2 separate regions of the Homo sapiens genome follow, and region 2 is linked to region 1. The links come from fine-mapping of genetic effects on gene expression. A gene starts in region 1. The other region holds a variant in brackets. All regions are shown on one strand. Distances are between the middles of the regions.

Region 1 (4,396 bases):
CTGAGAAACATTAAGAAGTCCTCCCAAGTCTGCCTCAATGGCATTGGTTGGGTATAGTCATGGACTTGATCAAGAGGCAGCTATATAATGGCAAAAAGAGGAGACTCACGTGAAGTATCCACATCCCATGCAGAAGGGGAGATTTGGGGGCGACTACATGAAACTTCGACACTGATTTTTCTAAAAGCTTAAGAAGAGCAGTGTCATCTTGCTTGGTATGTACCCTATGGAGAAAGGATAGCTTTGCTCCTGGGAAACTTAGATCATGAGCAATCTAAGATGATCTCACTCAGTTATTTAGGGGCTTGAACTTGATGGGACATAGGGAAGGCAGTTACTGTTTAACGGTCCATAGCTGGTCCGGTGGATTAATTGCCAGAGAAAGCAGAAGTAAACCCTTGGAGAATACTTTTATCCCCAAACTTAGGAATAACTGGAAGCTCATTTAAACTGGGAGCATTTCCCCCTCCACCCCAAGAAAAGATAACTTCCCTCAAGGGGATCTGGTGAATGAAGCAGCGTATTTTCATCCTTGTGATAATGGGTGTGAGTCAGGCACTACCATAAAAGAAGAATTAACTTGAATGTGCCACATACTTGGTCTGGCCTTGTCCCATACCTGTACTCTTGTCATGGTTGATTACCTATGTGCATCAGATATAAAGCAAGCAGTCTGCATTGTGGCATGAGATAAAAGGTATGTTAATATGCTCAGGTCACATACTATCTTGGCCAATAGTAATTTTATATAATTTGCTTAAAGGAAACTGCACTTCTTGCAATATTTTTTTCCAATGAAGAAAAATTTAACGTGACAGAAGCTTTATATATAACTCTTGCATTTGAGTAACAGCATTGAATCCTCTCCATCTCAAGCAGAACTTTTAAATATTTTTATTACTTTTGATATGCAAAAGCTAAGGAGAAATGGTTTGGAAGACCTAAGTTAAATTTCTAATGAGTCTTGTTTCTTTAATAGGGGAGAATTTCATACAGCTTCGGTGAGTTTTTTCTTTCCACATGAGATAATATAAACAAACAAAAAAATAAAAAAGTGAAACATTTCTCTTCTTACTTTAAGAACCTTAAGGGCTAAAAGAGTGGTTTGGTTTCCTGACTGGTACTTTTGGTTTGCCTTCTCTAAGTGGTCTTGAGCAATTCCCCAGAGGAAACATTTGAAGAGGGTTTTTCTCCCACTTGAGAGAGTTTCATCCCACACAACCCACAGAATTTGATGGCAAACTTCATGGACCAAGTGTCTGGTTTTACAGAAGTGGCTGTGGAGTATGTTTTTCCTTTCACAGGTGCACATTTATTCTACCTTAGGAATAAGAAGAGATCATTTTCTTTTAAAGAGGGTAGCTTAAACACTGAATATCTCTGATAATTGGATGCCAGTCAGGTAGGTTGTGATTTACTAAATGCGGGGGAAAAAAGGTGGAAAGAAGGATTAAAACTTCCAAAGCCTTTCTCGCTGATCTTTCTTTACAACCATCTGGTGTGCACAGAAGTATTGTATAATCTGGCCTGTATTATTCTCTTACTGTGAAACATATTGAAACACTTTATGTTTAGGTGTGTGTACAGAAATTCATGAAGTTCTTTTATACACTTTCTTAGTTCCATCGTAATTCTCATTTTAGGATGTCGTGAAAAGATAGCCTGGTGAGAGAGCACATTCTACCCTGGCTTGTGAATTTGGATTTGTTCCTTCCTATCTACCAGCCACCTGATTACTTACTGTCCCCGTGCAAAGGGCACCCGTTCACATCATTTTTTTCCAAGCGCTAAAACCTGGAAAGATATTTTTTTAAAGGACTCACAGAAGCTGTCTTGGGGGTTTGGAAAACATCACAAAATTGTTAGCAGACCTTTTGACTGTGCTATTTTTAGGAAGTTAACTGTGTTCTTTTAAAGTACATTTTTGACAATGGGACAACGTTTTCCTTGCCCCCACTGATGTGTGAAATATGTACAGTGAAAAACGTCAGTACAACACCCCAAACAGATACATTTTAACCTAAGCAACAGTCAGCAACAGGAGAAAAAGTGATTTAAAAAGAGAAAGGTTTCGCAATATTTATGCTGCTGTTTCTTCCCTGAAGGAGCTTTTATTTTACCATTCAAACAGAAGTTTGTTTTCAAACCAGTTGCTAGTTAAAGGAGCAGCGGATCGCGCATCCGTAAGAATCAGCTCTAACCAAACAGCAAACGCGTTGGCCAGAGGGTGACTTATTCCCCCATAGCAACCCCTGGTAGGTGAGCTGCCTGCAGAAGTGCTGTCTTACCTTGAGCACGTAAGATCAGGGAGAGAGGCTCGCTGGCTCCCACGGAGAGGATCGGGGAAGGGCTGTGATCCGCTGCTGGTAACATGCACTTGGCTTTTATGGGCAGGTGGGAGGAGCTGCTCCTCATAGTAGGTGGGCAGGGAAGGAGCGGCGGGCGGGCAGCCTCTGGAGGAGCTGGACACTCTTCTCTGGGGAGGGGCGGGCAGAGACTGGAGCCCGCAAGGCGGAGGAGAGACGACGGGGCGGGGGGAGGGGGAGCGCGGTCACAACGGAGGAAGGAGTGGAAAAGGGAGAGAGAGGGAGAAGGGAAAAAAGAGAGGGAACTAGAAATAGTGAAAGGGATCTTGACCACAGATGGGGAAAGGTGGGGGAGAAAATGAATAGCAGAGACAGAGAGAGAGAGAGTGTCTGGGAGGAAAGGGGAATCGGAGTATTTTCCGTTTTTGCATGACATTTTTTGGCAGAGGGAGTTGTGGGTGATTGTGACTTTTGAAGGTGTTTTCTGTGAATTTGGGAATTTGAAAAGCTACATAGCGGTCCGGGAGAACTGAAGGGTTTCTAAGCGAGGCAAGGGAGGTGAAGCTGGGCGTCCGGGCAGCAGAGCCAAAGTTCAGGGTGGACCCGGACCTGGAGCTGGAGGCACTGACATGGCCTGGAGCCAGGCAGCCCCCAGCCCTCAGCCCCGTCCCACCGCCCGCGGGTGAAAATCGCCCCATCCCTCTCCCTCCAGGCAAGGCTTATTTGACAAGGAAGTTCCTGCGCTGCCTGTCCTCTGAGCATCCAGAGGCCCCTTTTGAGACTTCGGCAGCATTAAAGTAAATCCAGCAACGGGGAGGATTCGCGTGGACTTGCTTGTGGAGACAGGAACCTCAGAACCAGCCTGGGTCTTCCAGCATCTGCTTATGTAACGTAGGATTTCAGAGCTCTCTGCCCTCTGGTTATTTTCGGTATTTAAAACACTCTCATTCCTAACAATCGGAAAACGTCTTGGTGCCACAGTTCTTTCTCAGTGTGTCTTAAACATTAAGAGAGGATTCAACCAACAAGTGGCTAAAGGATCAGTCTGAAATTACTAAGAAATGCATTCAGAGAAAGAAAAACAAGCTCCTTTCGCTGCTGAGTGGTGACTCACTTCCTAGCCCAAGCCTGATTTTTGCCACCAAAGGAATTAAAGCATTTTAAAAGAGAACCTGAGACTTGGGGTGGGAGATACAGTACCGGGAGGGGGAAAAGGCGGGAATGGGAGGGGGGAGGGATGGGTAGGCTGGAAATAATAAAGGAACGAACTTGTACTGAATATGTATATATGTACTTCATTCAGTGTTCACCGCAACCTTATGAGGTAGGTATGATTCATATTGTGCAGATTTATTTATTTTTTTTTTAATTTAAAGAAAGGCATCTCTAAGGGTTTAAATAACTAGCTCAAGCTAGCGAGAGGGGGAGCCACAGCTAGCGAGCTTGCAAACCTTAGGCACTCTTCAGTACACCAGGCTGCCGTATAGAACACCTAGGTTCGTCTCAGGTTAGATCCTGATGTCATTGGCTGGTAGCAGGCTCCAAGAGAAGGAAACTTGATGGTGAAGAGCAGAATTACTCAAACTTAGCACTACTGAAACTTTCGGGAGAATATTTCTCTGTTGTAGGGACCTCTCCTGTGCACTGTAGAATGTTAAGCAGTGTCCGTGGCCTCTACCCACCAGATGCCAGTAGCAGTACCCACTCCGCACTCGCCACCCAGCTGTGAAAATAAAAAATGTCTCTAGATTTAGCCAAATGTCGCTGAGGGACAAAATCCCCTCCTCTTCTTAAGAACTATTCGTCTAAAAAAGGCCCACAACTATAAAAAAGCATTTTAAAAGAATCTATTAAGAAAATACCCAGTAGTGCCATTTGGATAATAATAATACCTACGTCCATATGTGCCGAGTTTACACAGCACTTAGGTTTTTACATACGTATTTCCATCTGTTAGCTTCAAGAGCTCAAAGCCTCAATTACTTCCTTTGTAACTAAGCTTATTCTCAATTGGTTACGTCTGGGAGTCAACGAAATAAACTCCCATGTGCCCGGGATATGAGGCAAGAACAATCATATATGAAATAAAA
Region 2 (4,396 bases), 73 kb before region 1:
TTTGTCATCCAAGTGCATCTATGGTTAAACTCCCGGGTTGGTTGTGTTTTTCATTTGCCTTGATTTTTAAGTGTTAACCTGGAGATACAACCATAATGTCTTTTTCTCCTCCCCTCTCATCAGAGCCACAGGCTCCTGGCATTCTGTTTTTATATAGGAAACCAGATTAAGTAAAACAGCTTCTTCTATAAGATAAATCCTCCAGTGGCCAGCCTGGGGCAAGTTGGCTCCTCTTGTGCAACTACATACTCAATAGAACACTGTTAAAATTTGTTTTAATTGTATTTTTTTTTTCACAAATCCATTCCCAGAACTTATAATACTCTTAAACGGTAAGCCAAGCAATTACAGTGGCAACTTTATTGAAACAATACCACTGCTCCTTGAGAGAAGGATTAAACAGGGCTCATGACAGCCGTCTGGCAAGGTGCTTAGCTCACCAGAGGTTGCCCAATGCCCAGGATCAACGGTTGAAAGAATGCTTTAGAGGGAAGGCACTGAACGTCTTACTGATGCAGGTTTCAAGTAACCTTGCTGTAAGAGTTTGTAGCTTTATTCCATAGAAGCTCGTGGATTCTGTTTTAGGAGGTGCTAAACCAATTGCCATTTAACAAGTGTGAGCTTTACTGGTTTCTCTTTTTCTTAATCTGTTGCTTGAGGGAGCATCTGGCATCTAGCAAGTTCTTGGGGTAGCAAAAATAAGACTATGTCCTGTTCTAATTCCATCTTAAAATTTAAAGAGACTGCACGTGGGGCATGAGAAGACTAAGTGGTGGAAGATTGAAGGGGTTGTTCTTGGTTAAGTTCAATGTACTTCATGACATTAACTCTGGCTTTATCTTTACTACTTGTGTGAACTTGGGCAAGTTACTTGAATTTCTCTGTTCCTCAGCCTCCTTATCTGTAAACTGGGGACAATAAGAAGAAGTAACTCTCAGGACTGTAATCAGGATTAACTGAGATAATGTTTGTAAAGCACACAGCAGAGGCCTGACACAAATCAAGGACTACATGAATATTAGCTACTATTATCAGAATTTTTGTTACTCTTTTCCACCTTGCTCACATTGCACAAACTGTTCTCAACTTTGTGAAAACCTTCCTTTCTCTACTTTTGAGTCTATAAAAGACTTGAGACGACTTTCTGGCTCAAATGTAGAGAAAAAGAGAAATGTAGAGAAAGAAAGGCATCTCAAGTCTGTTATAGACTTCAGTTGCCTTTATGGCTCAATTTTCCCAGTTTGCCTGAAACTGAGGGGTTTCCAGGGATGCAAGACGTTCAGCAATAAAACAAGGAGAGACCTGGGCAAGCCAGGGTGATAAGTCACTCCACTTTTGGAAAGCTTCCATGTCTGTCTAATTCTCAGTTCTGGGATTTCTTCCTTAGACTAAGTAATCCTTCAAAAAACAGCCACTTCTGAGGCTTTTTCAAATTCACCTTGTTTCTGGAAAATCTTTAGCTGTTTCCTTTTATGCCATCATCTCTGCAGATATGGGGCAGAAAAGGAAATGTTGTGTTTCATATGCCAAGAGAAAGTCATATTTGTTAGGCATCCTCAGCTGCCTTTGGTTTTCAATTCAGGGCCTATAAATCATGAGCCCGGATGTCCGACAGGCTGGGAGGTGGACTATGGAAAAGAATCACAATAAACTGAAATGACTTTTTGCCATTGGCTTGGCCAACATGCCTTGCCAAGCGGTTTTCCCCTCAATTTTAAACAAATCAGTTTTATAAAGGGAAATGTACTCCATATGTTGCTGATGCCTTTATCCTCAATTCACAAAAATGCCATCTTCTTAGAGAGGTAGAGTTTCCAGGAATTGTTTGGAATCTTTTTCCTCAAAGAAAGTACCACTTGAACCGTCACAAATAACTAAGTTTCTTTTCATGGTTGTTGGTGAGGATAATAACACCTGATTTTGGTTTCTGCCACAAATGGCCCCAAATGCATTCTCTTCTAACCTTTTAAAACCTTTCAATTTCAAAGTATGACTTTATTGCTTTCCAAGAACTACAGGTTTTCTGTTTTGCTCACTTCCAAGTTTACCTGAATTTAATAGAGGTCAACAAAACCCTGAAAGGCTCAAGTATTTTTATTAGTGGAAAGAAAGTCACAAACCAAGAGTATTACTTCTATTTACTGATAGCATCAAAATGCTTTTTTTCCCCCACCAGCCTTGGTTTGATAGACATAAATCATCATTAGGAAGATAGAGAGGTAGAAAATATTATCCCTATGTTGCTGACTATTTTTATAAAATCATTCTGTTAAAAAGAATACAACTACTTAGTTTGACCTTATAATTCTCTGTATCCCATATACTCTCTCTCTACTCTCAAAGTAAAATTCACCTTTTTCCTATGATTGCATCAATTTGCTGCTAAGCCGTGATGTGATTCTGTTTGTCAATGGTCTGAGGACCAGATAGGCCTGAAATCCTTTGCCATTTATCAGTCGAGGCCCCACTCCCACATCCCCCAGGTATTAGGTCACTTCCATTTGTTTGTCTGGTGAGAACTGGCTTCGTTTTCCAAGGCTGGAGGCCAGATTGGTTCAACACC[A/T]GAATAGGAACCTGGAACTGACATTGGTTTTGCAGATGTGCAAAAGAATCCCAGGAGTTTTGAAAAAGAAAGGCGAGAATGGGTTTTGAGAAGAGAAAAGAAAGGGTTTTCAGAAGGCTGAAAACAAAACAATTAATCATATGGTGACTATTACATTTGTTTCTATTAGTGACTTACTTTCCCTGTGTTTTCAGACTCTAGTTCAATTCCCTTTTTATGTAACTACTGAATAACGATCACCTTTTGGGGGGCTTTCTCTTGTTTGTTGTTTCTTCAAGTCTGAGGCTTTCAAATTGTCTTCTTACTTCTAAACCAGAAAAGGAAGTGATTTCATATGTGAGGTAATGAGGTGAAAAGCAGGACTGACCACTGTGAAGATTTGCAATTGAAAAAAATAATTTAGAAAATAGTCTTGGAATTGTCACAATAAATTGCCTATAGTGATAGTTTTTTCAAGACCCTCTCCTCCACCATTTATAGTTTGAGAACATATTTGCCTTTTGGTACCCATTAAGAGTTCCAAAATGGTGGATTTCATCACCTTTGGGTAAGGCCCTGGAGTGGAGCCAGAACTTCCATCAAGAAAATAAAGTATATATTTTTTCTACCTCACATTTACCTACTTCTTCAAGATATTATGATTTTAAGCAGAAGTTTCCAGATTCTTAATAGTGCAGGGAGCATTGACCTGGGACTCATATAATCTGATTTTGGATGTTAACTTTACCACTTAGCCATTTGTGTGAATGTGGGCTAGTGATTTAATGTCTCTAACCCTGTCTCATCTATAAAATAGGAATAATGATAATAATATTAATAACACACATGCCTGGTCCACATGTTAGCACACCTGTGCCTGGCACAAACATTATTATTCACAGCCAACAGACTGGCTGCTCCTCCTGACAGTAGCTGACCAAGTGGATTAAACTCATGGAAGGTTTGTGAAAAACCTCTTTCTTTATGCTCGAATTTCCACAGCTTTGGTTCATTAAATGTTATTTGGAATTTTGCTTATGGGCCACTGGCAACTTAGCTTAGTTTAACAATGTCCCTTTTATTTGGACATAACTGACATTCCTTAAAATATACATAACTTTATTATTTTTCTGTATTAAATCCTCCTATTGGTGCTTGGAGGGGACGGAGATAGTGGAGTGGGCTTATTTTCTATGCCCTGTGATTTTTGCTGTGTCACAACCTGTTCCTCCCCATGATGCCATTTCCTTTGTGGGTGGGGCAAAGAGAATATTTGGTGAGTAGCGCAGGCAAAAGTCTGGGAAATATCCCAGTTCCATGGATGACAGTGTTGCTGCTCTGCTCTGGGATTTCCAGGTCATCTTCTTCTAGTTTAACATATAACTCAGAATTTTATTTCAGCGATACAGCCTTTTTAGTGTTAAATGTGTGTGCACATGCACACATACATGCATGCATACTCTTGATGAAATGCAGAGTTAAATGGCATTTGAATGAGTGTATGGTTTAAAAAATTTATACTGGCTATTTAAATAGCAAGTATAATTCTGAGATTCCCCTGTCCCCTCCAACAAAATAAATAGCCTGATAGCTAGGTTCTCCTCACACATGAGAAGAAGGGAGTTGGCTCTTAAAAGGAATTTCCTTATGCGTCACTATCTCTCTTTAGCTGTATCTTGATAGGAAAATTCTTTGCATCTTAAGCTTTGTTCTTAAAAACATTTCAAAAAACATTACACCATAACACTCATCTTCTGGGAAGAAATTAATTTTAATCACTGATAATGCCTCTGTTGCTATTCACAACATTGATGTGATCACACAGGTCAAACCAAATAGATATGGAGTCAGATT

The links. PIP is the estimated chance that this variant, and not a neighbour inherited with it, causes the effect.
Region 2: its variant is the best candidate, but not a certain one, in a credible set for the expression of COL8A1 in skeletal muscle (GTEx, PIP 0.89).

What each region holds. Positions count from the first base shown.
Region 1 is chr3:99,636,557-99,640,952 of GRCh38, reverse strand. COL8A1 (collagen type VIII alpha 1 chain) reads right to left here and starts at 2,359. Exons shown (of 4, transcript NM_020351.4): 1 at 2,289-2,359. It overlaps LOC124909401 (a long non-coding RNA gene), which reads left to right and starts at 2,273. Exons shown (of 2, transcript XR_007095981.1): 1 at 2,273-2,366; 2 at 3,019-3,585.
Region 2 is chr3:99,709,684-99,714,079 of GRCh38, reverse strand. The region is part of intron 1 of COL8A1 (collagen type VIII alpha 1 chain); the gene reads right to left. Among named protein-coding and RNA genes, the nearest start is that of COL8A1, 73 kb to the right of the region's middle. The variant A/T (reference allele first, on the strand shown) is at 2,564.